Homo sapiens: one gene and its partners. The protein of the gene in region 3 purifies or fractionates together with the protein of the main gene of each other region. This does not show direct contact. Each region holds a gene or a part of one and is shown on either strand. Other genes may lie near its edges.

The links.
Region 1: the proteins of TEK (region 3) and HPRT1 purify together in Homo sapiens (affinity purification with mass spectrometry; one large-scale study listed by BioGRID and IntAct). This does not show direct contact.
Region 2: the proteins of TEK (region 3) and PSMB7 purify together in Homo sapiens (affinity purification with mass spectrometry; one large-scale study listed by BioGRID and IntAct). This does not show direct contact.
Region 4: the proteins of TEK (region 3) and HEATR3 purify together in Homo sapiens (affinity purification with mass spectrometry, with the first as the bait; one large-scale study listed by BioGRID). This does not show direct contact.
Region 5: the proteins of TEK (region 3) and GARS1 purify together in Homo sapiens (affinity purification with western blotting; one study listed by BioGRID). This does not show direct contact.
Region 6: the proteins of TEK (region 3) and RTN3 purify together in Homo sapiens (affinity purification with mass spectrometry, with the first as the bait; one large-scale study listed by BioGRID). This does not show direct contact.
Region 7: the proteins of TEK (region 3) and NUDT12 purify together in Homo sapiens (affinity purification with mass spectrometry; one large-scale study listed by BioGRID and IntAct). This does not show direct contact.

What each region holds. Positions count from the first base shown.
Region 1 is NC_000023.11:134,473,285-134,477,893, reverse strand, and holds part of HPRT1 (hypoxanthine-guanine phosphoribosyltransferase), read right to left. Parts: intron 4,536-4,609; coding exon 4,429-4,535; intron 2,714-4,428; coding exon 2,530-2,713; intron 1-2,529. UniProt on the Homo sapiens protein: Converts guanine to guanosine monophosphate, and hypoxanthine to inosine monophosphate. Transfers the 5-phosphoribosyl group from 5-phosphoribosylpyrophosphate onto the purine.
Region 2 is NC_000009.12:124,397,949-124,402,557, forward strand, and holds part of PSMB7 (proteasome subunit beta type-7 precursor), read right to left. Parts: intron 1-4,609. UniProt on the Homo sapiens protein: Component of the 20S core proteasome complex involved in the proteolytic degradation of most intracellular proteins. This complex plays numerous essential roles within the cell by associating with different regulatory particles.
Region 3 is NC_000009.12:27,223,801-27,228,134, forward strand, and holds part of TEK (angiopoietin-1 receptor isoform 1 precursor), read left to right. Parts: intron 1-4,334. UniProt on the Homo sapiens protein: Tyrosine-protein kinase that acts as a cell-surface receptor for ANGPT1, ANGPT2 and ANGPT4 and regulates angiogenesis, endothelial cell survival, proliferation, migration, adhesion and cell spreading, reorganization of the actin cytoskeleton, but also maintenance of vascular quiescence.
Region 4 is NC_000016.10:50,095,861-50,100,469, forward strand, and holds part of HEATR3 (HEAT repeat-containing protein 3), read left to right. Parts: intron 1-4,369; coding exon 4,370-4,513; intron 4,514-4,609. UniProt on the Homo sapiens protein: Plays a role in ribosome biogenesis and in nuclear import of the 60S ribosomal protein L5/large ribosomal subunit protein uL18 (RPL5). Required for proper erythrocyte maturation.
Region 5 is NC_000007.14:30,601,081-30,605,689, forward strand, and holds part of GARS1 (glycine--tRNA ligase isoform 1 precursor), read left to right. Parts: coding exon 1-120; intron 121-1,953; coding exon 1,954-2,042; intron 2,043-2,415; coding exon 2,416-2,492; intron 2,493-4,609. UniProt on the Homo sapiens protein: Catalyzes the ATP-dependent ligation of glycine to the 3'-end of its cognate tRNA, via the formation of an aminoacyl-adenylate intermediate (Gly-AMP).
Region 6 is NC_000011.10:63,756,850-63,760,900, forward strand, and holds the end of RTN3 (reticulon-3), read left to right. Parts: intron 1-1,306; coding exon 1,307-1,352; coding exon of another isoform or gene 1,353-1,542; 3' UTR 1,543-3,033; downstream 3,034-4,051. UniProt on the Homo sapiens protein: May be involved in membrane trafficking in the early secretory pathway. Inhibits BACE1 activity and amyloid precursor protein processing. May induce caspase-8 cascade and apoptosis.
Region 7 is NC_000005.10:103,547,928-103,551,254, reverse strand, and holds the end of NUDT12 (NAD-capped RNA hydrolase NUDT12), read left to right. Parts: intron 1-283; coding exon 284-394; 3' UTR 395-2,400; downstream 2,401-3,327. UniProt on the Homo sapiens protein: mRNA decapping enzyme that specifically removes the nicotinamide adenine dinucleotide (NAD) cap from a subset of mRNAs by hydrolyzing the diphosphate linkage to produce nicotinamide mononucleotide (NMN) and 5' monophosphate mRNA.

The DNA of each region.
Region 1 (4,609 bases), on a different chromosome or scaffold from region 3:
GATCAGCCTGGGCAACACAGTAAGACCCAATCTCTACAAACATAAAAAAAAATTAGCCAGCCATGGTGGTGCACACCTGTTAGTCCCAGCTACTCGGGAGGCCGAAGTGGGAGAATCACTTGAGCCCAGAAGGTCAAGGCCACAGTGAGCTGTGATCTTGCTACTGCATTCCAGCCTGGGTGACAGAATGAGACCTTGTCTTTAAAAAAAAACTTTACTTCAAATCAACAGATATTTTTATTATTTGTAAAGATAGGGTATTGCTGTGTTGCCCAGGCTGGTCTCGAACCCCTGGCCTCAAGTGATTCTGCTGTCTTGGCCTTCCAAAGCACTGAGATTACAGGCATGAGCCATCATCAAATCAAGAGATATTATCAGAAGAGCTTTCTCAATTTCTACTGTTTAACAGTATATCTTCCTTGCATAGCCCTATAAATATACTAAAAAGCTTGGAATTGTATAGTTAAAACATGTGATTATTATATTATATAAAATATACCCCAGTAAAGCCTTTTTTAAAAAATTAACATGTCGGCCGGGCACGGTGGCTCATGCCTATAATCCCAGCACTTTGGGAGGCTGAGGTGGGTGGATCACCTGAGGTCAGGGGTTCGAGACCAGCCTGACCAACAAGGTGAAACCCCATCTCTACTAAAAACACAAAAATTAGCCGGGCATAGTGGCAGGCACCTGTAGTCCCAGCTACTCGGGAGGCTGAGACAGAAGAATTGCTTGAACCCGGGAGGTGGAGGTTGCAGTGAGCTACGATCATGCCACTGCACTCCAGCCTGGGCAACAGAGTGAGACTCTGTCTCAAAAAAAAAAATAAATAAATAAAATAAAATAAAATAAAATAAAATAAAATAAAATAAAATAAACATATCAATAAATACCAAAAAAATAGTATATCTACATAGAATTTCACATAAAATAAACTGTTTTCTATGTGAAAATTAACCTAAAAATATGCTTTGCTTATGTTTAAGATGTCATGCTTTTTATCAGTTGAGGAGTTCAGCTTAATAATCCTCTAAGATCTTAAACAAATAGGAAAAAAACTAAAAGTAGAAAATGGAAATAAAATGTCAAAGCATTTCTACCACTCAGAATTGATCTTATAACATGAAATGCTTTTTAAAAGAAAATATTAAAGTTAAACTCCCCTATTTTGCTCGTTTTTGCTTATCTAAAATAACATTCTGCACAAATCCCCAAAGATTAGTCATAACGTAACAAGACTGATTAAGACTGATGGGGATGGGGAAGGAGGCTATAGAAGACCAAAAAGATAAATCATACCAACTCTAAGTACATGCTTTGACTCTAAGCAGCAATGTATTAAAGGCTGGCCAGTTATACTGCCAGCAGCTATAATGACTAGAATGAAGTCCTACTGTAAACCATCAATCAATCAATCAATCAATCAATCACTTTTGTTGAGTAAAAGTCTAAATTTTGTGTTTAAACAAGTCTTTAATTCAAGCAAGACTTTAACAAGTTAAAAGGAGCTTATGGGTAGGAAGTAGTGTTATGATGTATGGGCATAAAGGGTTTTAATGGGATAGTGAAAATGTCTATAATAATACTTAAATGGCTGCCCAATCACCTACAGGATTGATGTAAACATGGAAAAGGTCAAAAACTTGGGTCACTAAAATAGATGATTAATGGAGAGGATGAGGTTGATAGTTAAATGTAGATAAGTGGTCTTATTCTCAATAAAAATGTGAACATAAGGCGAGTTTCTACAAAGATGGACAGGACTCATTCATGAAACAGCAAAAACTGGACATTTGTTCTAATCTTTGAAGAGTATGAAAAATTCCTATTTTAAAGGAAAACAGTAACTCACAGGAAATACCAACCCAACATAAAATCAGAAACAATAGTCTAAAGTAATAAAAATCAAACGTTTGCACGATCAAATTATGAATGAAATTCACTACTAAAATTCACACTGATTTTGTTTCATCCACAGTGTCAATGTTGTGATGCATTTCAATTGTGTGACACAGGCAGACTGTGGATCAAAAGTGGTTTCTGGTGCGACTTACTCTCTTGAGTATACCTGCAGTCCCCTTTCTTAAGTGTGTTAAAAAAAAAGGGGGATTTCTTCAATTCGCCAATACTCTAGCTCTCCATGTGCTTTCTAGGAAACAAGTGTTAACCCACCTTATTTGTCAAACCTAGCTCCAAAGGACTTTTGACTCCCCACAAACCGATGTAGCTCAAGAGAGGGTATCTGTCACCAGTATGTATAGTGAAAAAAGTATCCCAAGTCCCAACAGCAATTCCTAAAAGGAGTTTATTTAAAAAACCACACACACCTGTAAAATAAGTATATATCCTCCAAGGTGACTAGTTTTAAAAAAACAGTATTGGCTTTGATGTAAAGTACTAGTGAATATGTTAGAAAAATCTCACTGTAACCAAGTGAAATGAAAGCAAGTATGGTTTGCAGAGATTCAAAGAAAATATAAGAAAACCTACTGTTGCCACTAAAAAGAATCATATATTAAATATACTCACACAATAGCTCTTCAGTCTGATAAAATCTACAGTCATAGGAATGGATCTATCACTATTTCTATTCAGTGCTTTGATGTAATCCAGCAGGTCAGCAAAGAATTTATAGCCCCCCTTGAGCACACAGAGGGCTACAATGTGATGGCCTCCCATCTCCTTCATCACATCTCGAGCAAGACGTTCAGTCCTACAGAAATAAAATCAGGAATTTAATAGAAAGTTTCATACATTAAACTTTATAACAAACACCTCTTAGTCATTAAACTTCCACACCAACCTGGGCAATATAGTGAGACCCCATGCCTGCAAAAAAAAAAAAATTAGCCAGGCATGGTAGCATGTACCTGTAGTCCCAGCTACTTGAGAGGTGAGGTGGGAAAATCACTTTAGTGCAGGATGTTGAGGCTGGAGTGAACTGTGATTGTGCCACTGCACTCCAGCCTGGACAATAGAGCAAGACCTTGTCTCAAAAAAATGCATTAAAAATTTTTTTTAAATCTTCCACGTAACACATCCTTTGCCCTCATGTTTCATAAGGTAAAAAATTTGATACCTTCAAAAAAACCAAGCATACCACTATCATAATTTTTTTTAAATGCAAATAAAAACAAGATACCATTTTCACCTATCAGACTGGCAGGTTCTGATTAAATGAAATTTCTTGGATAATATACAATATTAAGAGAGACTGTAGAAACTGGGCCAGTGGCTCATGCCTGTAATCCCAGCACTTTGGGAGGCTGGGTAACATGGCGAACCCTGTTTCTACAAAATAAAAATATTAGCTGGGAGTGGTGGCGCACACCTATAGTCCCAGCTACTCAGGAGGCTGAGGTGGAAGGATCGCTTGAACCCAGGAGGTTGAGACTGCAGTGAACTGTGATCATTCTGCTGCACTGCACCCCAGCCTGGGCAACAGAGACCTTGTCTCAAAAAAAAAAAAAAAAGAGACAAATTGTGAAGAGAAAGGTACTCTCATATAACATCAGGAGTATAAAATGATTCAACTTCTTAGAGGAAAATTTGGCAATACCAAAATATTCAATAAACTCTTTCCCCTTGACCCAGAAATTCCACTTGAATAAAGCTGAACAAGTACCAAACATGTAAAAGAATGTTTCTTCTAGTACAGTCGGTAAGAACAAAATAGTGTCTATCAATAGTGGACTGGTTAAATCAGTTATGGTATCTCCATAAGACAGAATGCTATGCAACCTTTAAAATATATTAGATAGCTCTAGACACACTAATATTAAAAGTGTCCAATAACATTTAAAACTATACTCATACGTTAAAATATAAATGTATATATGTACTTTTGCATATAGTATACATGCATAGCCAGTGCTTGAGAAGAAATGTGTACAGAAGGCTGAAAGGAGAGAACTTTAGTCTTCTTGTTTATGGCCTCCATAGTTAGAATATTTTATAACACAAATATTTTGATATTATAATTTTAAAATAAAAACACAGAATAGCCAGACATACAATGCAAGCATTCAATACCAGGTAAGGTTTTTCACTGTAATTGACTTAACAGAAAATTTTCAAGCTAGATGTGCATAATAATAAAAATCTGACCTTGCCTTCATGTGATTCAGCCCCAGTCCATTACCCTGTTTAGGACTGAGAAATGCAAGACTCTGGCTAGAGTTCCTTCTTCCATCTCCCTTCAATGTTTACTTTGTTCTGGTCCCTACAGAGTCCCACTATACCACAACTGATACTAAGTAATTAGTAAGGCCCTCCTCTTTTATTTTTAATAAAGAAGATTTTAGAAAGCATCAGTTATTTAATAAGTTGGCCTAGTTTATGTTCAAATAGCAAGTACTCAGAACAGCTGCTGATGTTTGAAATTAACACAAGAAAAAGTAAAAAACCTCATTTTAAGATCTTACTTACCTGTCCATAATTAGTCCATGAGGAATAAACACCCTTTCCAAATCCTCAGCATAATGATTAGGTATGCAAAATAAATCAAGGTCATAACCTGGTTCATCATCACTAATCTGAAAAAGAAATATAGCTGTTTCAATGAGAGCATTACAGGATACAAACATTTGATTGGATTAAGATGTTAAAA
Region 2 (4,609 bases), about 97 Mb from region 3:
CTTGAGATCAGGAGTTCAAGACCAGCCTGGCCAACACGGTGAAACCCCGTCTCTACTAAAAATACAAAAATTAGCAGGGCGTGGCTAATTATAGGCACACGCCTGTAATCCCAGCTACTTGGGAGGCGGAGGCAGGATCACTTGAACCCAGGAGGTGGAGGCTGCAGTGAGCCAAAATCGAGCCACTTAACTCCAGCCTGGGCAACAGAGTGAGACTCCATCTCAAAAAAAAAAAAACCACCAAATTTTAGCAATTCTGAGTTCTCTCTCAATACCCAACTCCTCACTCCCTCGAAAGGAAAGGGTAAAGAAGGCAGGGAGGGGAGGGGTGAAAGAAGGTTAGGGAAAGAAAAAAGAGACAAAACAACAAAAATCAAACTCAGATTAGGAAGAAAGCCAGCCCTGCACAGCTACGACCACGGAACAATGGCTGAAAGAAACTAAGAGAGCCACAGAGACAAAGCCCAGGCGAGTACAAAACCGTGATCTTACATTCTCTGTAAAGAGCTCCTCTTCACAATGGACTTGGATTGGAAAGAAACAAAAAGTAAAAATCACGTTGTTTTTGGGTAGTAAAATTGTGGAGATATATATGCATATATATAGTTTAATTTCCTTTGCTGCAATAAGGCTGTTTCAGTAAATACTGTTTTCAACATGCAGGACAGAGAACCTATGCAGAGAACAGTCAAAAATACAAAATCCAGTAAGTGCCCTTCGGGAATCTGTATAAATATTTTTAGTATTCAGAAGCAAGGCTTAATAGCTAAGTGAAATCACATCTGTAGGATGATAAAATCACAGCAGCTGTGTTGTACTGGGGCTTGCCAGAGATGGAAGACAAGGGTTCAAATCCCAGCTTTGTCACTTATGGGGCTGAGTGACACTAGGTAAGTTGCTAAATCTCTCTAACTTTCAGGTTTCTCGTCAGTAAAATAGCAATAATAGCATCCCTTACACTGAATTTTAACTGAAAATAATGTGCCAGCACCCAGCAGACTCTGGCACAGAGACATTCCCATAAATATGCTTTAAATTCAAAATAATACTAAGCTTTAACCAAAAAAAAAAAAAAAAAAGTAAAAGGACCTGTCACATTTACAACACTTTACAGCTAAACTGGGACCACACAAATGGAACACAATCTAAACCAACTGCATTCCAGGGGTGCTGCAAACTGCTAGTTCACAAACAATGAACAGCGGCTAAGGTTTCTAACACTAAGTTTCAGACATTCTTTAGCACAAACAAGTTGGAGAATCAGAAAATTAATTCACCATCAAATATTCACTGAGTTGCACAGGGCTCCGTGAGACCCTGAGAGTGAGGCACAGAAGCTGCTCTCAGAGGTCTAGAATTGTGCAGGGGCAGGAGGGACAATGCCTAGGGGAAGCAAAGTGGGGCCAAGGCGGGAGTCCTGGGATCCTGCTTCACTCCTGGCAGGGACTTGCTAACTCCGCCAGGGGCAGCCAGGAGGGAATGGCTTCTGGGCCACACTCAGGATGAGGAGGAGGAACACTCCAGGCAGAAAATGTGTTTCTGAAAGGAGGCAGCAACAGCTGTTAGGCTCTCTTCAGAGGAGGGCGAGGGGGCTGCTGCCACTGAAGCCCAGGGCACAAGGGAAGGAAGAACAGGAAATGAGATGAGAAAAAGGGCCTAGAGCCCAACTGAAAAGGGAGATGGCCCCAAATGAAGGCGTGACTGCAACACTGCAGCCAAGAGCCGCAAGGAGCTGGCGCTGAGGAACGCCAGGAGAGAATGACGACAGAAACCCAGGATGTGGCCCAGGGGTTAGCTGCTGTCTGAGAGGTCTCTGTAATGACAGTGGCCATCCCTACCGCCACCACCACTGGATTCGTCCTCACCCTCAACATTTCTGGCCAGGATGCAAGCTCCCTCCCTGCCCCAGGCCTCTCACGCCACTGCTCCCCACAGCTGTCAGCTGCTCCTTCTAACAAGCGAACCTAATCCTCTCATTCCCTGGCTTGAAAGAGCAGGAGACCTCCAGGACAAAATCAAAACAGCTCTGCCTGCAGCGTCTGGACCCCCGAGGCCTGCTTTCCAGCCTTGCCTCTGCTCCAAACTCCCAACATCCATCCCTCTTCCACCCTCCCCATCTTTGCTTCTGCTGCACCCCCTGCATGGGTCCCTTGCCCCACCCCCACTCACTGCTCCTGCCGCACCCATGCAGCAAACTCTGGCCTTTCAGTGCTTAACCACACGGAGCCCTTGTGCACCACAGGCCTGAGGTCTATCCCTCGGGGGTAAGGGGTGCATTGCAAATTCCTACTCATCCCTCAGGCGTTTAAGTGTTCTTTCTTCCCACTTTCACCCATCAGACTGGCAAAAATACTCAGCATCCGTGAGGTGGTGGGAGACAAGCGTCCTTGTATTCTCTAGTGGGAGTATAAACTCGTGCCAGCTTTTTGGACAGCAATTTGGCAATAGCTCTCAAAAGGTAAAATGCACTGTCCCTTTTCTGGGCTGCCCAGCAGCTGTATTTCCTGCCTCTGTCCGGAGAATTCCACTGCCATCTGAGCTGAGGCTGAGCTTCACCAATCAGAAGCACCCACCTTCCCCATGAGGAACTCTCTGGTGGTGGAAGGGATGGCAGGAAGGCTCAGTTCTGTGGCAGCCAGGGTCCGGCACCAGCTGTGCCCGCAGCATAGACTGAGACACTGTTCTTGGCCCCAAACCCAGTTCTTGCCCTCCCAACTACATTGTGAGCCACCTGCTATACTTTTCTCAAAAATCCCTCTCTTCCTTAAATCATCCAGTGACTCAACTGCTTGCAACAGAGAATTCTGGCCGAAACGTGTACACCTTAATCCAGAAATTCCACTGCTAAGAATTTATCTAAATGAAGTACGTATTTATACAAGTAGACCAAGACACATTTGTTACCAAAATATGAAAAACAAGATGTTCATCAGAAGAAGAATGGGTCAGCAAGCATGGTGTAGCCACATAATACAATTCTGTACAGCTTGCTATTATTACAGAAATTCTATAGGCCCACGTAAGCTGATATAAACACTTCTTCAAAACGAGTTAATAGTAAGGGAAGAATATTATGTATAGCATGAGCTCATTTGTGTGTTTTTTTTAAAGGGGTAACTAGATGACAGAGAAGGAGATACGTGAAAGTTTATCATAACACATTTTCTGGAAAAAAATACAAACAATTCTTAACAGTGGTTACTCTGGAGGGATGTGAAGGAGACTTTTCTTATAGTTCTTTGTCCCACTTGAATGTTCTGTCATGTTCATAAATTATGTTCAGTAGAAAATGCTTGAATGTCACTTGCTCAGAAAGGACTACACAAACACCCACCAGCCACACACTCCTTCCTATTATCCTCTCTAATGACTGTTCTTTTCCTCTGGGGCACTTATCACAATGCATTCTTCTAGGTTCATGTGAATTTACCTGTCTAATACCTGTCTCCCTCACAAGACTATAGGCTCTGAGGCAGACGCTGTGTTAACCACTAATCTTCCCAGCTCCTAGCAAAGTGCTCCGCACTAGTGATGCTTAATACACATCAGACAAATGAATGAAGAGATCCAATCCTCCTTCTAAGACTCGGCTCAAGTGAAGTTCTTCCTGAATTATCCCAGCTTGGAAGTGACCTTTTCTCCCTTGGGTCCCCTCCTGCCCTCGTCAGTAGGTACATCTGTCTCCCCCATTAGACTGAGTATCTGAGGACAAAGACCCTGATATTCACTTCTATCTGTGCTGCCTGCTATAGTGCCTTTACACAGAAGGCACTCACTAAAGAGCTGATGAGGCCGGGTGCAGTGGCTCACACCTGTAATCCTAGCACTTTGGGAGGCAGAGGCCGGCAGATCACGAGGTCAGGAGTTCCGTATCAGCCTGGCCAACACAGTGAAATCCCCTCTCTACTAAAAATACAAAAATTAGCTGAGCATGGTGGTGCATGCCTATAGTCCCAGCTACTCGGGAGGCTGAGGCAGGAGAATCACTTGAACCCGGGAAGCAGGGGTTGCAGCGAGCAGAGATCATGCCACTGCACACCAGACCGGGTGACAGTGCGAGACTCAGTCTCAAAAAAAAAAAAAAGCTGATAAATGAGTGGAGGAACAAACAAGACCTCAAAGTAACAATTTACTTGGGTATTAAAATCAGATGTTACTGATGTCTCATTCTCCTTAATCTGGCATTTTAGGGCAGCAAAACCAGTCTGTGTGGAGTCAGTGGTTTCTAAATAGAATTATTCTATAAACTCAAGAGCTGTGGACCCATCACCCGGAACTCAAATGAGACTTGGACAGACAGGAGGTCACTCTTGGCCAGGAAAAAGCACAAAGTTGGGCGGCAGAAGTAAAATGGGCAGACACAAAGCTGTTTACCTACTCACTTTCAACAACTTTTCCTAATTCAGCTTTATGCTCATGACACAAATTACCACAGTTCACTGGCAAGAGAAACCAATTTTCCCATTTTACAAATGAAGCTGCTTTGTATCAATGTCAAACTTCTTAAATTTGATGACTTTATCAAGGTGACAGAAGAGAACATCTTGAAGGATTCAGAGGTGAAAGGCTGTGGTGCCTGCTATTTACCCTCAAATGGTTCCCCACGCAC
Region 3 (4,334 bases):
ACCCTTCAAAAAAAATCAGTGAATCCAGGAGCTAGTTTTTTGAAAAGATAACAAAATAGACTGCTAGCCAGACTAATGAAGAAGAGAGAGAACAATCAAATAGATGCAACAAAAATGATAAAGGGGATATCACCACTGATCCCACAGAAATACAAACTACCATCAGAGAATACTATAAACACCTCTACGCAAATAAACTAGAACATCTAGAAGAAATGGATAAATTCATGGACACATACATCCTCCTATGTTTAAACCAGGAAGAAGTCGAATCCCAGTCGAAGACCAGTAACAAGTTCTGAAATTGAGGCAGAATTAATAGCTTACCTACCAAAAAAAGTCCAGGACCAGACGGATCCACAGCTGAATTCTACCACAGGTACAAAGAGGAGCTGGTACCATTCCTTCTGCAACTATTCCAAACAATAGAAAAAGAGGGATCTTTCCTAACTCATTTTATGAGGTCAGCATCATCCTGTTACCCAAACCTGGCAGAGACACAACAAAAAAGAAAACTTCAGGCCAATATCCCTGATGAACATTGATGCGAAAATTCTCAATAAAATACTGGGAAACAGAATCCAGCAGCACATCAAAAAGCTTATCCACCATGATCAAGTCTGCTTCATCCTTGGGATGCAAGGCTGGTTCAACATATGCAAATCAATAAACATAATCCATCATCTAAACAGAACCAATGAAAAAAACCACATGTATCTCAATAGATGGAGAAAAGCCTTCAAGGAAATTCAACACCCCCTCAGGCTAAACACGCTCAGTAAACTAGGTATTGATGGAACGTATCTCAAAATATTAAGAGCTGTTTATGACAAACCCACAGCCAGTATCACACTGAATGGACAAAAGCTGGAAGCATTCCCTTTGAAAACCGGCATAAGACAAGGATGCCCTCTCTCGCCCCTCCTGTTCAACGTAGGATTGAAAGTTCTGGCCAGGGCAGTCAGGCAAGAGAAAGAAAGAAAGGGCATTCAAATAGGAAGAGAGGAAGTCAAACTGTCTCTGTCTGCAGATGACATGATTGTATTTCTAGAAAACCCCATTGTCTCAGCCCAAAATCTCTTTAAGCTGATAAGCAACTTCAGCAAAGTCTCAGGATACAAAATCAGTGTGCAAAAATCACAAGCATTCCTATACACCAATAGCAGACAAACAGAGAGCCAAACCATGAGTGAACTCTCATTCACAACTGCTACAAAGAGAATAAAATATCTAGGAATCCAACTTACAAGGGATGTGAAGGACCTCTTCAAGGAGAACTACAAACCACTGCTCAAGGAAATAAGAGAGGACACAAACAAATGGAAAAACATTCCATGCTCATGGACAGGAAGAATCAATATTGTGAAAATGGCCACACTGCCCAGTGTTATCCCCATCAAGCTACCATTGACTTTCTTCACAGAATTAGATAAAACTGCTTTAAATTTCATATGGAACCAAAAAAGAGCCTGCATAGCCAAGACAATCCTAAGCAAAAAGAACAAAACTGGAGGCATCAAGCTACCTGACTTCAAACTATACTACAAGGCTACAATAACCAAAACAGGATGGTACTGGTACTAAAACAGATATATAGACCAAAGGAACAAGACAGAGGCCTCAGGAATAACACCACACATCTACAACCATCTCATCTTTGACAAACCTGACAAAAACAAGCAATGGGGAAAGGATTCCCTATTTAATAAATGGCGTTGGGAAAACTGGCTAGCCATATGCAGAAAACTGAAATTGGACCCCTTCCTTACACCTTATAAAAAATTAACTCGAGATGGATTAAAGACAAACGTAAAATCTAAAACCATAAAAACCCTAGAAGAAAACCTGGGCAATACCATTCAGGACATAGGCATGGGCAAAGACTTCATGACTAAAACACCAAAAGCGATGGCAACAAAAGCCAAAATTGACAAATGGGATCTAATTAAACTAAAGACCTTCTGCACAGCAAAAGAAACCACCATCAGAGTGAACAGGCAACCTACAGAATGGGAGAAAATTTTTGCAATCTATCCTTCTGACAAAGGGCTAATATCCAGAATCTACAAAGCACTTCAACAAATTTACAAGAAAAAAACAACCCCATCAAAAAGTGGGCAAAGGATATGGACAGACACTTCTCAAAAGAAGATATTTATGCAGACAACAAACATGAAAAAAGCTCATCATCACTGGTCATTAGAGAAATGCATATCAAAACCACAATGAGATGCCATTTCACACCAGTTAGAATAGCAATCATTAAAAAGTCAGGAAATGACAGATGCTGGAGAGGATGTGGAGAAATAGGAATGCTTTTACACTGTTGGTGGGAGTGTAAATTAGCTCAACCATTGTGGAAGTCAGTGTGGCGATTCCTCAGGGATCTAGAATTAGAAATACCATTTGACCCAGCCATCCCATTACTGGGAATATACCCACAGGATTATAAATCATTCTACTATAAAGACACATGCACACGTATGTTTATTGCAGCACTGTTCACAATAGCAAAGACTTGGAACCAACCCAAATGCCCATCAATGATAAACTGGATAAAGAAAACGTGGCACATATACACCATGGAATACTATGCAGCCATAAGAAAGGATGAGTTCTTGTCCTTTGGACGGACATGGATGAAGCTGGAAACCAACATTCTCAGGAAACTAGCACAAGAACAGAAGACCAAACATTGCATGTTCTCACTCATAAGTTGGAGTTTAAGGATGAGAACACATGGACACAGGGAGGGGAATATCACACGCCTATCGGGGGGTGGGGGCTAGGGGAGGGATAGCATTAGGAGAAATACCTAATGTAGATGACAGGTTGATGGGTGCAGCAAACCACCATGGCACTTGTATACATATGTAACAAACCTGCATGTTCTCCACATGTATCCCAGAACTGAAAGTATAATAATAAAAAAATAAAGATACATTTTCTTGCCTAGAACCTTGCTTCTGCTAAGATTACTTTCAAAAGTAAGATTTATTCCAAGGGTAAGAATAATGAACTGTAGTGATACCAGCATTCCCAGAACTATCCGTGGTAGAAGCTAACTGGCATGTTTGAAGACTGCAAGGCTCTAGGTTGAGCAGATAATTTATTGTCTAAATGGAGCTACTTCTAAGAGTGAAGGAGGGTGTTAATCTCACTGGAGCAAGAAGCATACATACCATCCTGGAAAAACCTGGACATAGTTGACCATCACTAGACAGTCCCTAAAATTCCACCTTTTGAGATTCACTTCATAAGGGGTGAGAAGATTTTTTAGTCTTTAAGAAACTTATGTTAAAGTGTAAGCTGTTCTGGGATCTGTGACACCCTAAGCCAATGGTTGATAGCCTTCCATGCACATAAGGTTCCCCAGAGTCATTTGTTCAGCATGTGGGCTCTTGGTCCCCACTGTCAGTCATTGATTCTGTAAGTTTAGGGCAGGTTCCAGAATTCTGCATTTTAATAACAGAGTAGTTCTGAGCACAACTGAGTAAGCACTGTCTTAGGTCAGTGTTTCCCAAACTATGTTTTCACGTGTTGTGCAAGATATAAATACATGATGCAAGGGGAAAGGAGTTCTGCGGTCAATTACTTTGGAAACTTTGTGTTAAACCTGTTGTCTTAGTCATTTCCGGCTGCTGTAACAACATACCATAAACATGGTGGCTTATAAACAACAGAGATGTATTTCTCACAGTTCTGAAGGCTGGGAAATCCAAGATCAAAGCGCTAGCAGATTTGGTGGCCATGAGCCATTTCCTAGCTCATAGATGGCCATCTTTCTGCTGTGTCCTCACGTGGCACTAGGGGCAAAAGAGCTCTTTGAGGCCTTTTGTGTAAGAGCACGAATCCCATTCATGAGGGTTCTACCCTCATGACCTGATCACCTCCCAAAGGACCTACCTTCAAACACCATCACATGGTTTCAACACATGATTTTTGGGTGGCATGAACATTCAGTCCATAGCACCTGGTTAAACAGGCATTTTTTTGTTTTTAATGACAGTGCTTCTAAAAGTCCTGCCTCTTAAAGGGACTTTATGTGGGTGGCATTTTACAAGTTTGAGCATGGGCCCTTTAAGAGACACTAACATTTTGAAATATGCAGCATTCCAAGGCAAATGCTGCTCTAGACACATACCCAGTTCTTTCTAGATGATTGCAATAGCTGAGACCAAGGTCCTGCAGAAACAGTACCGAGGGTAGGAACTAAATCTATGAGGAGTTGAAATGAGACTGGCTTAGGGAGGTGGGAGTCCTCATAGAAACTTCCTAGGGGCTGTACTTTGGTTAAGCTTCATAACCATGCATTGGGTGGCTTCATTCTCTCC
Region 4 (4,609 bases), on a different chromosome or scaffold from region 3:
TTCAGTATGCATGTCTGACAGAAAAATAAATTTTTAAAAATCTTAACCCCAGTACCATTACCCCAAGGCTCCAAATTAACGGATATTTCTTATTATCCTTTGGTTTGCACTCTGAGTTCAGTTTTCCCAGCTGCAGTCTAAGTTCAGTTTTCCCAGATTGCCTTAAAAATGTATTTTAACATGGCCAGGCACGGTGGCTCACACCTGTAATCCCAGCACTTTGGGAGGCTGAGGCGGGCAGATCACCTGAGGTCAGGAAGTCAAGACCAGCCTGGCCAACATGGTGAAACCCCGTCTCTACTAAAAATACAAAAGTTAGCTGGGCATGGTGGCGCACTCCTATAATCCCAGCTACTTGGGAGGCTGTGGCAGGAGAATCACTTGAACCTGGGAGGCGGAAGTTGCAGTGAGCCAAGATCATGCCACTGCACTCCAGCCTAGGCGATAGAGCAAGACTCCGTCTCAAAAAAAAAAAAAAAAAAAAACAGAAAAAGAAAAAAACGTCTTTTAACAGTTGGCTTGTTCAAATCAGGATCTAAGCAAGGTTCATGTGTTGCTTTTGGTTGATATTTTGGTCTCTTATTATCTCTAAAAAAAATTTTACTGAGATTTGATTCACATACCATGCAGTTTATCCATTTAAAGTATACAGTTCAGGCCAGCTGCAGTGGCTCACGCCTGTAATCCCAGCACTTTGGGAGGCCAAGGCCAGTGGACCACGTAAGGTCTGGAGTTCAAGATCAGCCTGGCCAACGTGGCGAAACCCTATCTCTACAAAAAATACAAAAATCAGCCGGGCATGGTGGCAGGCACCTGTAATCCCAGCTACTTGGAAGGCTGAGGCAGGGAGAATTGCTTGAACTGGGAGGTGGAGGTTGCAGTGAGCTGAGATTGCACCACTGCACTCCAGCCTGGGCGACAGAGGGAGACTCTGTCTCAAAAATAAGTAACTAAAGTGTACAATTCAGTGGTTTTAGTATATTCTCATATTCTTAAATCTCTTAGTCTATAGCATTTCCCTCACTCCCCTCCTTTCCCCATACACTTACCCATTGAAGAAACTCTCATTTTGTTCCGTAGCATTTTCTGCACTGGCAGATTTGGCCAACTCATCATGATGGCATCGTTCAGCATTCCTCTGTCCCCCATGTTTCCTGTGAGCCGGGAGCTAGGTCTAGAGCCTTAATTAGATCCAGGTCCAGATTATTTATTTATTTATTTTTTGTATTTATAATAAATAATCTAGACAGGTCCAGATTTTTTGGCAAGAATAATTTATAGTGCTTTATATATTTCCTATATTTATATCACAAATCATATGATATTATAAAATAGTGATGCTGAGATTAATTAGTGGGTTCACATAATGGTTTTATAACCAGTGATTGTGGTTGCCTGGCTCCATTATGTCATTAGTGGGTTGCAGAATAGAGATACCCTAATTTTGTCTTTTCTTTTTTTTTTTTTTACATTTATTAGCTATGATTTTTTTTTTTTTCAGAATAGCTATCCTAGCAATCTCTATAAGTGACCAGTGATTTTTTTTTTTTTAGTATCATTTTGAACTCAGGGTTTTTTATATATTTGTATTTCATTCCATTATAGTCATGCTTTTTGCTGCCAAATTCATCCCATCTTTGGATAGTAGGAGTCCCTTCAAATTGGCTCCTGTGCCTCTTTTACAAGAATTTTAGGTTTTTGATCACTTTTGCTTCCAGGCATAGGATGTCCCAGGTTCAATTTGTAATTTTCTTGCTTAAAACCTGGAATCTGGCCAGGCACAGTGGCTCATGCCTGTAATCCCAACACTTTAGGAGGCTGAGGTGGGCGGATCACTTGAGGTCAGGAGTTTGAGACCAGCCTGACCCACATGGCGAAACTCCGTCTCTACTGAAAATTCAAAAATTAGCTGGGTGTGGTGGCACGCGCCTGTAATCCCAGCTACTTGGGAGGCTGAGGCAGGAGAATCGCTTGAAGCCAGGAGGTGGAGGTTGCAGTGAGCCAAGATTGCACTGCACTCCAGCCTGGGTGACAAGAGTGTGACAAGAGTGAAACTCCGTCTCAAAAAAAAAAAAAAAAAACCCTGGAATTAGTTACTTCTCCAAGAAGCTCTGATTTCTTTAGTGGGGAAAGTGAATTGTGGAGTGCTTATTGCTATCATGTTGCCATTGTTTCTAGGTCTTTTTAGTGGAAATAGCTAGGAAATAGGCATTTTTTTAGGAGACAAAAATAGTAAGTTTATCCTGATAATTTCCAGTTTAAATAAAAAATGGTACAATATTTTTACTTAATTTTCGATTTTGTATTTCTATCTTTTTGTATCCCCCAAAAAGATACATTTGTACCCAAAAAGGTACATTGTACCCAAAAAGATACATTAGTGACATTAAAATTCTTATTTGCAGCTGGTCTGATGGTAGTGGGTTATCAGGACTTATTAACATTAGTGTCACTGAAGTTGGTATACAACCCCCCACGCTAAGTTTGACTGGCTTTAAAAATAATAATAAATAGGTCGGGCACGGTGGCTCACGCCTGTAATCCCAGCAGTTTTGGAGGCCGAGGTGGGCGGATCACAAGGTCAGGAGATCAAGACCATCCTGGCTAACACAGTGAAACCCCGTCTCTATTAAAAAATACAAAAAATTAGCCGGGTGTGGTGGCGGGTGCCTGTAGTTCTGGCTACTCAGGAGACTGAGGCAGAAGAATGGTGTGAACCCAGGAGGCGGAGCTTGCAGTGAGCCAAGATCGGGCCACTGTAATCCAGCCTGGGCGACAGAGCGATACTCCGTTTCAAAAATAATAATAATAATAAATAATTTAAAAATTAAAATTAGAGAAAAGAAAGAAAAATATTTTTCAAAAATTTTATTATTTGCTTTCTCCTACAGAATGTACTTTGTAGTAGTGACATTAAAAGACATTAAAATTATTTGCTATACAGTGATATTAAAATTGTTTGCTGTAGTAACATTAAAATTGTAGTGACATTAAAACTATTATTTGCTTTATCCTACGGAATGTACTTAATAGTATCAAAATAACAATGCTCTTGTTATTGCCAATAACACTATTTCTTTTTGCTTCTTTATATAATTTTTTTCTTAATGCTTTTAAAATTTTTTTATACTTTATTTTTATTTTTTAGTTTTTTAATAGAGATGAGGTCTTGCTATGTTGCCCAGCCTGGTCTTAAACTCCTGCTCTCGAGTGATCCTCTTGCCTCAGCTTTCCAAAGCTAAGAATTTTTTTGAAGAGCATAATTTGACCCTCAGTTTCTAAGAAGTAGGAATGGTAATGGGATGCATAGCCTGCCATGTGGCTGTTGGATGGACCAGAAAACCTTATACTCTAGGGCCTATAGGAATATCAAGTATTTTTATTGATTTCCCCTGGTATGTAAGCAGCAGCTTATGGGATCAGTGTGATGGTTAAGGAAAATTACTCAAAGCCCATGTTCAGGGCCAGGTGCAGTGGCTCATACTAATAATCCTAACACTTTGGGAGCCTGAGGCGGGAGGATTGCTTGAGCCCAAGAGTTCAAGAACAGCCTGGGCAACTTTGTGAGACTTCATGTCTACAAAAAATAAAAATACATTAGTCTAGTGTAGGGGCTCACACGAGTGATAAGTAGTGAAGCTAGGATTTGAACCCAGGGTTCAATCTCCAGATTCCAAGCCTTTGTGTCTGGCTCCAGATTCCAAGCCTTTCATCACTACACTGTGCTGCTGCTTATAGGAGATAGTCTCACTCTGTTGCCCAGGCTAGAGTTCAGTGGCACAATCTCAGCTCACTGCAACCTCTGTCTCCCAGGTTCAAGCGTTTCTTGTGCCTCAGCCTCCTGAGTAGCTGAGATTGCAGGCGTGAGCCACCGCGCCCAGCCTTAAACTGAAAATTATCCACTACATGGTAGAAGCACCATATAATGTAATGGTTTCTACAGTCTTTAATTATGATAATACAGATATCTCAAAGTAAGTTCTTACCTTGTATAGACTCAGCCAATTTTTTTAAAACCACACAATCCTATTTATACTTTCAAAGCCTTTTTCTTACCATTAATATTAAAAAGGAATTGGACTCTCTTTAGTGTGTGTACATCTGGAATGAAAGTCTTCATCAAATTAAATGGAGCCCCTTTGATATTAGATAACAGTGCCGACATGAGCAGGGTTCACCTTAGTTCAGAATTACCAGCTCTGTCTGGGAGAACTGGAATACATATTAATAGTAACTTACCTGCCAGGAGTTTATGTCACTCTTAAAATCCTGTAGCCTATAGAGGAGATTCCTGTCAGTCCGGTTTTCACATGCTGATAGAATTAATTGAGTTTAACATTATAAATACTGTCCTCTTCTCTTTTAACAGTGCATGACTCCTGATCAGCTGATGACATTATGCAAAGCAGGCATTCATAGTAGTAATGTCGGGGTTAGAGTGAATGTCGTTAGCATTTTAGGAATCACTGGCAGCGTCCTTGCCAAAGAAGATGGTACACTTGAAACTCTTAAGGTAAAACAATTTGCTTCTGACCTAACATGTTAAATAATTAGAAATGGGAGAAGAACTGTTGGTGTAGGATTTCTTAAAACTTGTGTGGACTTGAAG
Region 5 (4,609 bases), on a different chromosome or scaffold from region 3:
TGGGCCAGTTGGCTGTGCTTTGAAGAACAATATTATTCAGACCTGGAGGCAGCACTTTATCCAAGAGGAACAGATCCTGGAGATCGATTGCACCATGCTCACCCCTGAGCCAGTTTTAAAGTGAGATCTTACTTTGGAGTGGGGGTATCCTACTTTAAATAAAATAACTTATTAAATTATTTAATATACTTATCTAAATAACTTCCTGATTATAAAGAACTACTCATTTCATGTAGAAAATCTGAAAAATATGGAAAAGCAAAGAAATGTATACCTTCTGCTCACAGATAGCTATGTTAAGATGATTGTGTTTGTCCTTCCTGTTTTTTCTGTACGTCCCTATGTATTTCAGTGTTAGCAGTACACTGCTTATTTTCATGTAATATTGATGAACATATACTCATATCATTAACTATTCATCTAAAGCATTTTTAATGATAGCATAGTATTCTGTTTTATGGAAGTGCCATAATATGTTAGTTTGTGCCATATTGAAAGCATTAAAGTGTTTCTCATTTTTGACTGCACCGAATATCTTGATAGATGGATTTTTGGGTATATCCTTGATTATTTCCTTAATACAAGTTCTGAGCAAAGGTATACTTGTAGAGATTTTCAGTTAAATACTATTTGTTTTAAAGTTTCAATGCAGAAACTTAGATTATTCCTACCAACGTTATTGAAAGTAGGGCAGAATTTCCTTTTTTTGTGTGTGTGAGATGGAGTCTTGCTCTGTCGCCCAAGCTGGAATGCAGTGGCTTGATCTCGGCTCACTGCAAGCTCTGCCTCCCAGGTTCACGCCATTCTCCTGCCTCAGCCTCCCAAGTAGCTGGGACTACAGGCACCCACCACCACGTCTGGCTAATTTTTTTTTTGTATTTTTAGTACAGACGGGGTTTCACCATGTTAGCCAGGGTGGTCTCGATCTCCTGACCTCGTGATCCGCCCGCCTCGGCCTCCCAAAGTAGGGCAGAATTTCAGAATGTGAAACTGAAAGGAATTCTTTTATTTATTTATTTATTTTTTGAGATGGAGTCTCGCTCTGTCCCCCAGGCTGGAGTGCAGTGGGGCGATCTCTGCTCACTGCAAGCTCCGCCTCTCGGGTTCACGCCATTCTCTTGCCTCAGCCTCCAGAGCAGCTGGGACTACAGGCACCTGCCACCGTGCCTGGCTAATTTTTTTGTATTTTTAGTAGAGACGGGGTTTCACCATGGTCTCGATCTCCTGACCTCGTGATCCGCCTGCCTCGGCCTCCCAAAGTGCTGGGATTACAGGCGTGAGCCACTGCGCCCGGCCTGAAAGAGGAATTCTTGCCATTTTGTAACTCGTCATTATTCATTTAAGGTTGACTGGTGGAGAGCTAATTTTTACTATTGGCATCCGTTAGGTTCTCTTAATAATTTCAGCCAATGAAGAGGAGGAATTCTGAATGATGGCTCTATAAGATCAGGACTACCTATCATTTTAGCTACTTGTTCCACCAATAGGAACTTTGTAGAGATAATACCAATGTCAGTACAGGTTTCAGTGGCAGAAAACACTTCCCTTAAGGTTCAATGTCTATACTGAGCTGCCATGAATTCTTAACTAGTCAAATTCCCAGTGATTTTGGCCTTTGCTTAGATCACTAATAATAATGGCATAGGCATGGATTAATTGATCCTGAAGAATAGTACAGACTTTATGACAACTTGTAGAAAAGAATTGTCTTTTTATTGTCTAGTTAATGTCTTCTTTCTTATGGGAAGGAAGAATGTGGGAGAGGGTGAGAAATAGATTTGAGGAAGAATTTTCTCTGGCATCCATTACTGTCATGGATACATCATTACTATAGATATGGGAGCTTCCATCTTTGAGATGGATATAAATATTGATGGGGAATTATCTTATAAGGTAATATCTATGTGTAATTTGTATGAGAATGACAAATTGGGTTGGCATTTGTTAATTTAGGACCTCTGGCCATGTAGACAAATTTGCTGACTTCATGGTGAAAGACGTAAAAAATGGAGAATGTTTTCGTGCTGACCATCTATTAAAAGGTGAGGTTCTTCATCTCCTTCAGGTAGGATTGATCAAAATAAAAGGTTTAAACTTTCTCTCAGATGTCTTTCATTAAATTTTTTATTGAGGCATAACATTCAAAGAGCAAAGTGCACAGATCTTAAGTATATAGATCAAGTCCTTTATTTTTTAAAAAAGTTATATGTAGATAATTAGTTATATACAGATAATTTTTCTAATTAGCAAATGAATCAAGACAATACCATGACTGCTGTTGTAAAATCAACTGTGGGATTCATGTAAATTAAGAACTTTATGCTTGGATTTACTTTTTAATTGTCTAGCATTGAAACTGAAAAGTGCATTGTCCTTTTTCCCATTGATTGATATATGTCAACACTGTTCTTACAGCTCATTTACAGAAATTGATGTCTGATAAGAAGTGTTCTGTCGAAAAGAAATCAGAAATGGAAAGTGTTTTGGCCCAGGTGAGTACTCTAGAGATGTTATCAGAGTAACCTAGGTGGTCGCTGTCCTTCTTTCAGTGTTTAATGACTGTTGCATTTCCCATTATGCTGACCCTGGCCACATTGTAATGAAGCAGAGGTTAATTCTGTCCTGTATAGCGTCTCTTTTTTTGCATTTTTATTTTCTTCTCTCTTTTGTGACTAACCCTTTATTTCAGCCCAAACTAACAAGTCCGTGTTAATAGGCATTCAATTTGTCTGACCTTGGAAACTACTTTTCTGGATTTAATAGCTAAAACCACAGGAGTGACTGATGATGGGTAGTGTTCAGCACTGGTGTGGAGACTTCGGGGCAGATAACTTGATGAGCACTTTCTCACTGGCTACTTGATCTGCCTCTGCTTGGACCCTGATTTCATGCTATTATTCTTAGAACCTCATGAGCAGGTCCTGACTTTTCTGTCCTTGCTTTTCTCAGTTTGCCTATAGGCCTAAAGTTTTATAATTTGTATAATATTTAAGCTGACAAATTTTAGAGAAGACAAAAAAGAGACCACAGAGATAATTTATTCTGACCTTTTACCAATTGCAGGAATACTTTCTATATTAGAAGTAGTTCTTATCCTTTTGTTGGGTCACAGACCACCCTAAGAATGTGATCAAAACTGCACGTCTCCCTGGGAAGATGCATGTGCTCATGTATATATGTTGCTGGTGTCTCACCTCATCTGTTGGCTATTCCGTTTAGGCAAAGTACATTTCTCCAACACCATGTTTAGTCATGAGGTCTACTGAGGCTCACCTCTTAAATTTTATTTACTTCCTTGGGCAAAAAACAAAAAACCAATACTGTGATTATACCTATTTTCTTTACACCGATCTCTCTCTCTCTCTCTGCCTGAATATAGAACTCCCTAATATGTTGTTTTTCATGGGAATTACTGGATACTTTTCCACTGTTGTCCTAATTTTTTTTTTAGCATGCTTTTTTTCTCTGTGATAGTTAACTTTCCAACATAGCTAAAATAATTTCTCCTTCTTCATTTACATTGAAAACTTTCTTAATTTGGCTGTTGAATCATCTGCTGATTTATTTTGATACTTGTGGAGTGTAATTTTATCCCTTGCTTGAAGCTCATTGTTTTAGTAATTACTCATGGTTTAGAAAATTATTTCTTACATTTTGATACTGTTGAAGCCACACGTTCATCTCATTTTCTTATCCAAAGGCATGCCCTTTATTAGAAAAAATGGAAAATGCCTCTAAGTATCCCTAAAATTTTCCATTCAGAATTTTAGATTTACTGAGGTTTTGTGTATATGTTTTTGATCTTAACAGTATTATTCATTTCCAAGTACGTTGTCAGAGTTGGGAAGTAACTAGTTGATTTGACAAGTCAATTTATTGTTTGAGCATTGGCCTTCTCTCTTATTTCAGATCTGTGTTCTAGGAGAGCAATTTGTTTTTTGACTTGCCATATCAGATGCATGTACAGCTGTCAATATAATCTTCAATGAAAAGTAAGGGACCCATGGGAAATGGTGTAGCACTCAGAAATGGCCCTGGTGGATTCACTGGCTGAAAGCCCATCTGTTGCTTAAGCACAGAGTAGCGTTTTCTGCACCTTAGTGTCTGACTCCTTTTCAGCTTTATGAAGCATCATTGTTTCTTTAAAAGGCCCTGATTCACCTTCTGTGGTAGGAAGACCTCTACTCCTATTATGTGGATTTAACAGCTCAGAACGAATTCTTTTGTTTCTCTTCTCTGTCTGTTTTTGTGGCCCATCTCTGGATGTTCCAGTTTTAAAAACCATTTTTAACTTGTTTATGAAAAATTCAAAACATACAAAATTTTATATGTTAAATAAAAACATAATAAACAATTATGTACCTATCACCCTGCTTCACTGTTAGATTTTTTTGTATCTATTCCCCTCTCACTTTCCTGACTTCTTTCCCCTAATTCTTTGTGTGTGGTAGGGTGGGGACAGAGCCCCACTCTGTAGCCCAGGCTGGAGTGGAGGGGCACGAACATGGCTCACTGCAGCCAGGACCTCCTGAGCTCAAGAATCCTCCTGTCTGGGCCTCCCAAAGTGCTAGGATTACACATGTGAGCCATGGTGCCCAGCCTGAATTTT
Region 6 (4,051 bases), on a different chromosome or scaffold from region 3:
AGCCTGGCCAACATAGTGAAACCCCATCTCTACTAAAAATACAAAAATTAGCCAGGTGTGGTGGCATGCAACTTTAGTCCCAGCTACTCAGGAGGCTGAGGAGGGAGAATTGCTTGAACCTGGGAGGCGAGGTTGCAGTGAGCAGAGACCATGCCATTGCACTCCAGCCTGGGTGACAGTGAGACTCCGTCTCAAAAAAAAACCAAAAAGTTATTGGTTGCTTCCCCACCTTCATTTATTTTCACATGTATTCATTTAAGCCAAACGTATCCCTCTCAGAAACAAAAGTTCTAGTAAATAAGTAACTTAAGGATCAAAGTTGTCTTTTCTAAGATTGCCAAATCTCTGTTCCCATTTTTTTAAACCAATTAATAAATCAGGAAATAAAATATTGACAAACATCTTTATGACTCCCTATATCAAAGAGTTGTTTTCTTCTTTTTACTTTTTTTCCCCATACCTAGAGGACAGTATTTTTTTTCTTTTTTCTTTTTTCTTTCTTTTTTGTTTTGCTTTCTAGAGACAGGGTCTCACTCTGTCACCCAGGTTGAAGTGCAGTGGCACAAGCTGAAAGCTCACTGCAGCCTTGACCTCTGACCTCCCTTGCTCCAAGTGATCCTCCCACCCCAGCCTCCTGAGTAGCTGACACTACAGGCATGTGCCATGCCCTGGCAAATTTTTTATTTTTTATAGAGATGGGGGTCTCACTATGTTGCCCAGGCCAGGCTTTAACTTCTGGCTTCAAGTGATCCTCCCACCTTGGCCTCACAAAGTGCTGAGATTACAGGCATGAGCCCTGCTTTTATTTTGAATTATTCATAGCAAATACTGTGAACCTAACGCTTTGAATTTGTTAACATTTTTCTTTTTTTCTTTTTTTTTTTTTTTTTGAGATGGAGTCTCGCTGTCACCCAGGCTGGAGTGCAGTGGTGCGATGTCTGCTCACTGCAGCCTCCACCTCCCGGGTTCAAGCGATTATCCTTCATTCACCTGCCTCAGCCTCCTGAGTAGCTGGGATTACAGGTGCACACCAACACGCCTGGCTAATTTTTGCATTTTTTAGTAGAGACAGGGTTTCACCACATTGGCCAGGCTGGTCTTCAACTCCTGACCTCATGATCTGCCTGCCTCGGACTCCCAAAGTGCTGGGATTACACGCGTGAGCCACCATACCCAGCCGGGAGAATGCATTTCACATTGCTTATGCAAGTCCAGGACTGTCCTCTAGCATCACAGTTAAAATAAAAACCTAGAGCAAATGCTAATGTTTTCACTTTCTTTCTTTTTCCCCTCCTTTTCTCAATAGGATCCAAGCAAAACTCCCTGGAATCGCCAAAAAAAAGGCAGAATAAGTACATGGAAACCAGAAATGCAACAGTTACTAAAACACCATTTAATAGTTATAACGTCGTTACTTGTACTATGAAGGAAAATACTCAGTGTCAGCTTGAGCCTGCATTCCAAGCTTTTTTTTTAATTTGGTGTTTTCTCCCATCCTTTCCCTTTAACCCTCAGTATCAAGCACAAAAATTGATGGACTGATAAAAGAACTATCTTAGAACTCAGAAGAAGAAAGAATCAAATTCATAGGATAAGTCAATACCTTAATGGTGGTAGAGCCTTTACCTGTAGCTTGAAAGGGGAAAGATTGGAGGTAAGAGAGAAAATGAAAGAACACCTCTGGGTCCTTCTGTCCAGTTTTCAGCACTAGTCTTACTCAGCTATCCATTATAGTTTTGCCCTTAAGAAGTCATGATTAACTTATGAAAAAATTATTTGGGGACAGGAGTGTGATACCTTCCTTGGTTTTTTTTTGCAGCCCTCAAATCCTATCTTCCTGCCCCACAATGTGAGCAGCTACCCCTGATACTCCTTTTCTTTAATGATTTAACTATCAACTTGATAAATAACTTATAGGTGATAGTGATAATTCCTGATTCCAAGAATGCCATCTGATAAAAAAGAATAGAAATGGAAAGTGGGACTGAGAGGGAGTCAGCAGGCATGCTGCGGTGGCGGTCACTCCCTCTGCCACTATCCCCAGGGAAGGAAAGGCTCCGCCATTTGGGAAAGTGGTTTCTACGTCACTGGACACCGGTTCTGAGCATTAGTTTGAGAACTCGTTCCCGAATGTGCTTTCCTCCCTCTCCCCTGCCCACCTCAAGTTTAATAAATAAGGTTGTACTTTTCTTACTATAAAATAAATGTCTGTAACTGCTGTGCACTGCTGTAAACTTGTTAGAGAAAAAAATAACCTGCATGTGGGCTCCTCAGTTATTGAGTTTTTGTGATCCTATCTCAGTCTGGGGGGGAACATTCTCAAGAGGTGAAATACAGAAAGCCTTTTTTTCTTGATCTTTTCCCGAGATTCAAATCTCCGATTCCCATTTGGGGGCAAGTTTTTTTCTTCACCTTCAATATGAGAATTCAGCGAACTTGAAAGAAAAATCATCTGTGAGTTCCTTCAGGTTCTCACTCATAGTCATGATCCTTCAGAGGGAATATGCACTGGCGAGTTTAAAGTAAGGGCTATGATATTTGATGGTCCCAAAGTACGGCAGCTGCAAAAAGTAGTGGAAGGAAATTGTCTACGTGTCTTGGAAAAATTAGTTAGGAATTTGGATGGGTAAAAGGTACCCTTGCCTTACTCCATCTTATTTTCTTAGCCCCCTTTGAGTGTTTTAACTGGTTTCATGTCCTAGTAGGAAGTGCATTCTCCATCCTCATCCTCTGCCCTCCCAGGAAGTCAGTGATTGTCTTTTTGGGCTTCCCCTCCAAAGGACCTTCTGCAGTGGAAGTGCCACATCCAGTTCTTTTCTTTTGTTGCTGCTGTGTTTAGATAATTGAAGAGATCTTTGTGCCACACAGGATTTTTTTTTTTTTTTAAGAAAAACCTATAGATGAAAAATTACTAATGAAACTGTGTGTACGTGTCTGTGCGTGCAACATAAAAATACAGTAGCACCTAAGGAGCTTGAATCTTGGTTCCTGTAAAATTTCAAATTGATGTGGTATTAATAAAAAAAAAAAAAACACAAACAATGACTGTGGCATCATTCTGCTAACTTTATTCTTTATACACAGTTTGGGTAAAGTAAGAACCAAACACTGCTTCCACTCCCCCTATCCTCACTCCACTTTGGGGACTTTAAAAAGTGACTAATAGTTGGTACTCGTAAGGATTCCCAAGACTGCAGAATTTAGTTGTACAGCATAACTGTGCATTTGATCTCTGAAAGAAAATAAGAGACCCTCTAAGAGGTGGTGACCTTAGAAGAATGAGGAGGGGTCAGGGGGTCTTTTACCCCAGTTCAGCCTCACACCAGCCTGGGAGATTTTCCCACCTGCAACGCAAAGCAGCCTGTAAATTACATATAGCCACAATACACTTAAATTGAGTCAATCACCGTGGAAAATGGGAACTAAATACATCATCAGGTCTTCATTGAAAGAACTTGAGTGGTCACCTGTGATTAGCTCTTCTCCTAAACTAAGGCTGCTGTGACCCTTAAGCTGGCTTTTAAAAATGTATTCAACATACCTCTTAGAAAACTTAGGCTGAAATATTTTTTAAATGACTGATGCAAACAATTTCACAAATACGCATACAAATGTTTGAATAATGTCACTAAGTAACATGGTATATAAATATGTATTCAGAGTAACATTTACATATTGGCCATAATAGCAAGCATACCATTAACAACAACAACAAAAAAAATCATGAAGAGACTTCACCTGTTCATGTCAGAATCCCAAGGCAAGGAGGCACACCTAGGCAAGAGGGCCAACTCAACTTGCAACGTCTAACCTGTGAGGCCATAACTTCCATCAAAGCAGGAATCAATGGAATCACTACCGCAGCCCTTCCCTTTCACTGGTGCCCGGCACTTCAGCTGCATCAAGATCAATGGAGGGCTCATGAAAACACTGCTAGGCCCCAACCAAGTTTCTGATTCAGTAACCCTGGGGTATGGCCCAAGAATTTTTATTTCTAGCAGATTCCTAAGGTGATGCTGCTGGTCTCAGGGACACACTTTGAGAGCCACTG
Region 7 (3,327 bases), on a different chromosome or scaffold from region 3:
CAGCTACTTGGGAGGCTGTGGCAGGAGGATCGCCTGAGCCCAGGAAGTCAAAGCTGCAATGAGCCATGATCCCACCACTGCAACTCCAGTCTGGGTGGCAGAGTGCAAGACCTTGTTTCCAAAAAAAAAAAAACTTTGCATGTAAATATGGATGTTGTCACTTTCTACTGTTGTTATTCACTGTAAAACTCATCACATTTTAATTGAATTATGTAAACATGGGAATAGTATTTAAATATGACAGCTTTGAAATCCTAATGCATTCTATTATGGTGTGTTTTAGGTCCTGGATGTTCTGACCAAAGGGAAGCAGCAGGCATTCTTTGTGCCACCAAGCCGAGCTATTGCACATCAATTAATCAAACACTGGATTAGAATAAATCCTAATCTCTAAATCTAAGAACTAAGCTTTGAGTATTATTTAATAATTTCTAATAACACTCATTCCTCAAGTGATATTAGAGATTATTCAGTACTCTTGAGAGTGTCACAACACAAAATACGATGTTGGGTTTTCGAAATATTTTCAAAGTGTTCTGTCTTAATCACAAATTCATATTTTTACACATTTTTACAATATTGCCTCAGATTATGTTAAATTTGGGTCAGTCTTCTCTGAACTTTTTCTCTCTTGGTTTCTTTTCTTCCTTCACAGTTTTATCTCACAAAACCATTTTTCTAATAAGAGACATCATGTTGGAAAGATGTTCTAGAAATGTGCATAAATTTCAGTGCCTCTTGTAAGCATTAAACTGATGATGAAGAAAGTTCCTGATTTGAGAAATGAATCAAAGTAATTTTAATGAATTTTTAGCTTGTATTAGCTTGAGTTAGCTGGCATTGATTTTTTAGTCCTTTTGTTACCTTTAAGTTGTCAATATATGGTTTTTGTTCATCTCCCCATTGTAGTCCCACTTGCTCTTTCCTGGGGGTTCCATTGTTCTAGCAGTGGAGGTGTTATAGTGTCGCCACTCGTCTAATTTGACCAGTGTTAAGAATTTTCTAATTTAATAATTTAATAGTGATCTCAATACCACACCCTCATGGAAGGAGAAAAGCATACTATTATATCTGGGACCTCTCTTTTAGACCTAAAATTAATTAACATATCTACTTATATGTTACTTATACCTAAAGCTGTTATTAAGACAAACCAAGATTCTCTGCTTTTGCACTGAAATTAAACTTGAAAGGAATTCTCCTCAAAGGTCGGATATTAAATAAGTCCCAGGCAGATTTACATATTTAATTTAAAACATTGGCTTTATTTCATTTTGTGATGAGTGATGTATCTGTGTTAACAAAAAATTGTATAATCATTACCAATACTATTTATTATGCTCAAATATATCTTGGCTTTGACCTTATTTCAACACATTCTAAGAAGCCTTGACAAAGTAAGTATATTTTAGAGCTGAATCAGTAAGATTCTAGAGAAAGCAAAACATAGTAGTTCACAATTTTGCAACATAGAAAGTCACATTTTGAAAGGCTATTTTGAAATTGATTTAATAGCTATTATAGTTTATGAATATCAAAATTTGTATAATTTGCATCTTTACTAATGTATGCTAGAGCTACAAGAGACCTTAAGGATAATATATGAAATTAGCTTTCCTTATTTTATAGATAAGGAAAAAGAAATTGTGAAAGGTGAATTTACCTAATTAGTGAAAGTTACATAACTAATTACAACAGTCTGTACTATATAATGCAGAGGACGATTCTCCCTGTAAAAGGAACTAGAAGCTATTACTAAAAATATATATAGACAAAATTAAAAGAAGGAATGATAAGAATAAATTTAATTTACCAAATATTGTTAATTAAAATTTTAGATACTTAACATTTATTTAACTTAAATAAAAGATAACTGTCAGATAAAACTTTATTTTACTAATGAGCAGTGATTTTCTTAGGAATTGATGAAGGCTTATTGGTATCAAGAATTTAAACCAAATTAAAACTGACAGAGGACATTTAGATACATAATAAAATTCGAGCTACATAAGTATATGGAAAATAATGTACCTTGATTATTATGAAATAGAGCATCTTGAAATTCAGTTTTACTCTAAATGTACTTTTAATACTTGCAGATTCTAAGATTACATTGTAAAATTCCAGGTTTTCATAATGTTAAAATAGGAAAGTAGAATATAAAGTATCAACAAGTGTAGTTATACATTTTGTTTTGGATATTTAATCCTTACTTGGGAAAAAATCAGCATCTAGGTAAATTATTATTTTAATAACAACTCTTAAATTGCCAACCTCTGAGAGGTGAAAAGCTATGTAAATAGAAGGAATGGCCAGTTCAAAAGAATAGTAGATGTGATAGTGCCGTGAATGTATTCTACTGGAAATGAATGTAATAATACATTAAATTTTTAAAATCTATTTTGTTTTGTGTGTGTGTTTAACATGTTTTGACAAGTGTCCTGAAAAATGAGAAAAGCTGGATTTCAGTCGTTAACCTGTTTCGAATTGATAATGTACAAGAAATGCAAAAGCCTTTTTAAAAGTGTCTGTGTTTGGGAGACTTAAAACTTTGATTTGAATCTTAAAGTATAGTTTGGGGTCAAATACAAACAGACTTACATATATACATACATATATAAAGTCAATAATTTTTGTTCTTCAGGTTTAAAGCGATATATCTAATTTTTATTACTTGTCTAATACTGCTAATTGTTGGATTTTGATATTTTCACATGTTGATGGAACATGAAGAGTTAGAAGCCCACATATTTTATTTAGTTGGAAAAATGAGAAATTCTTTTAAAGACCCAGTTAGGGATTTGGCTGAAGACAGAAAATAATAGGATAACAAAGGGAGAGACCAAGATGGAAGGAGGAAGAATAAGTTTGTTAATAAGCCAAATTAATCCCACATAACAACAATAGATAGCTGGTCCTGGAACTGTGTTGCTAATGTGGATACAACAAAATATTAGGTGAAGATGTTCTATAAAACAAATCCATTAATTATTTAGAGTAAAATTTTCACAGTGAAAATTTTATTAGGGCTGAGACCCAGTTATTAGGTTCTGGGGGGGGGGAGGGAGGGGGAGAAAGAGAGAGAGAGAGAGATGGGTGGTGGGTATTGAGTGAAATTTGTGTATTTGTTGAGGTTAAAAGGGGCTGTTATCTCTATTAGAAAAAAAAATATGTAGGACAAAATAAATCCAATGTGCAAAATTAGGAGTCTCTATCTTCAAATATATAAGATCTAGGTCCTGAGGCAAAGCAAGAGTAGTTGCCAAGAGGTTGGAAAAGGCAGGGAAGTTTGATATTCTGTGCAGATCGGGGAGGGTGCTTGATAAA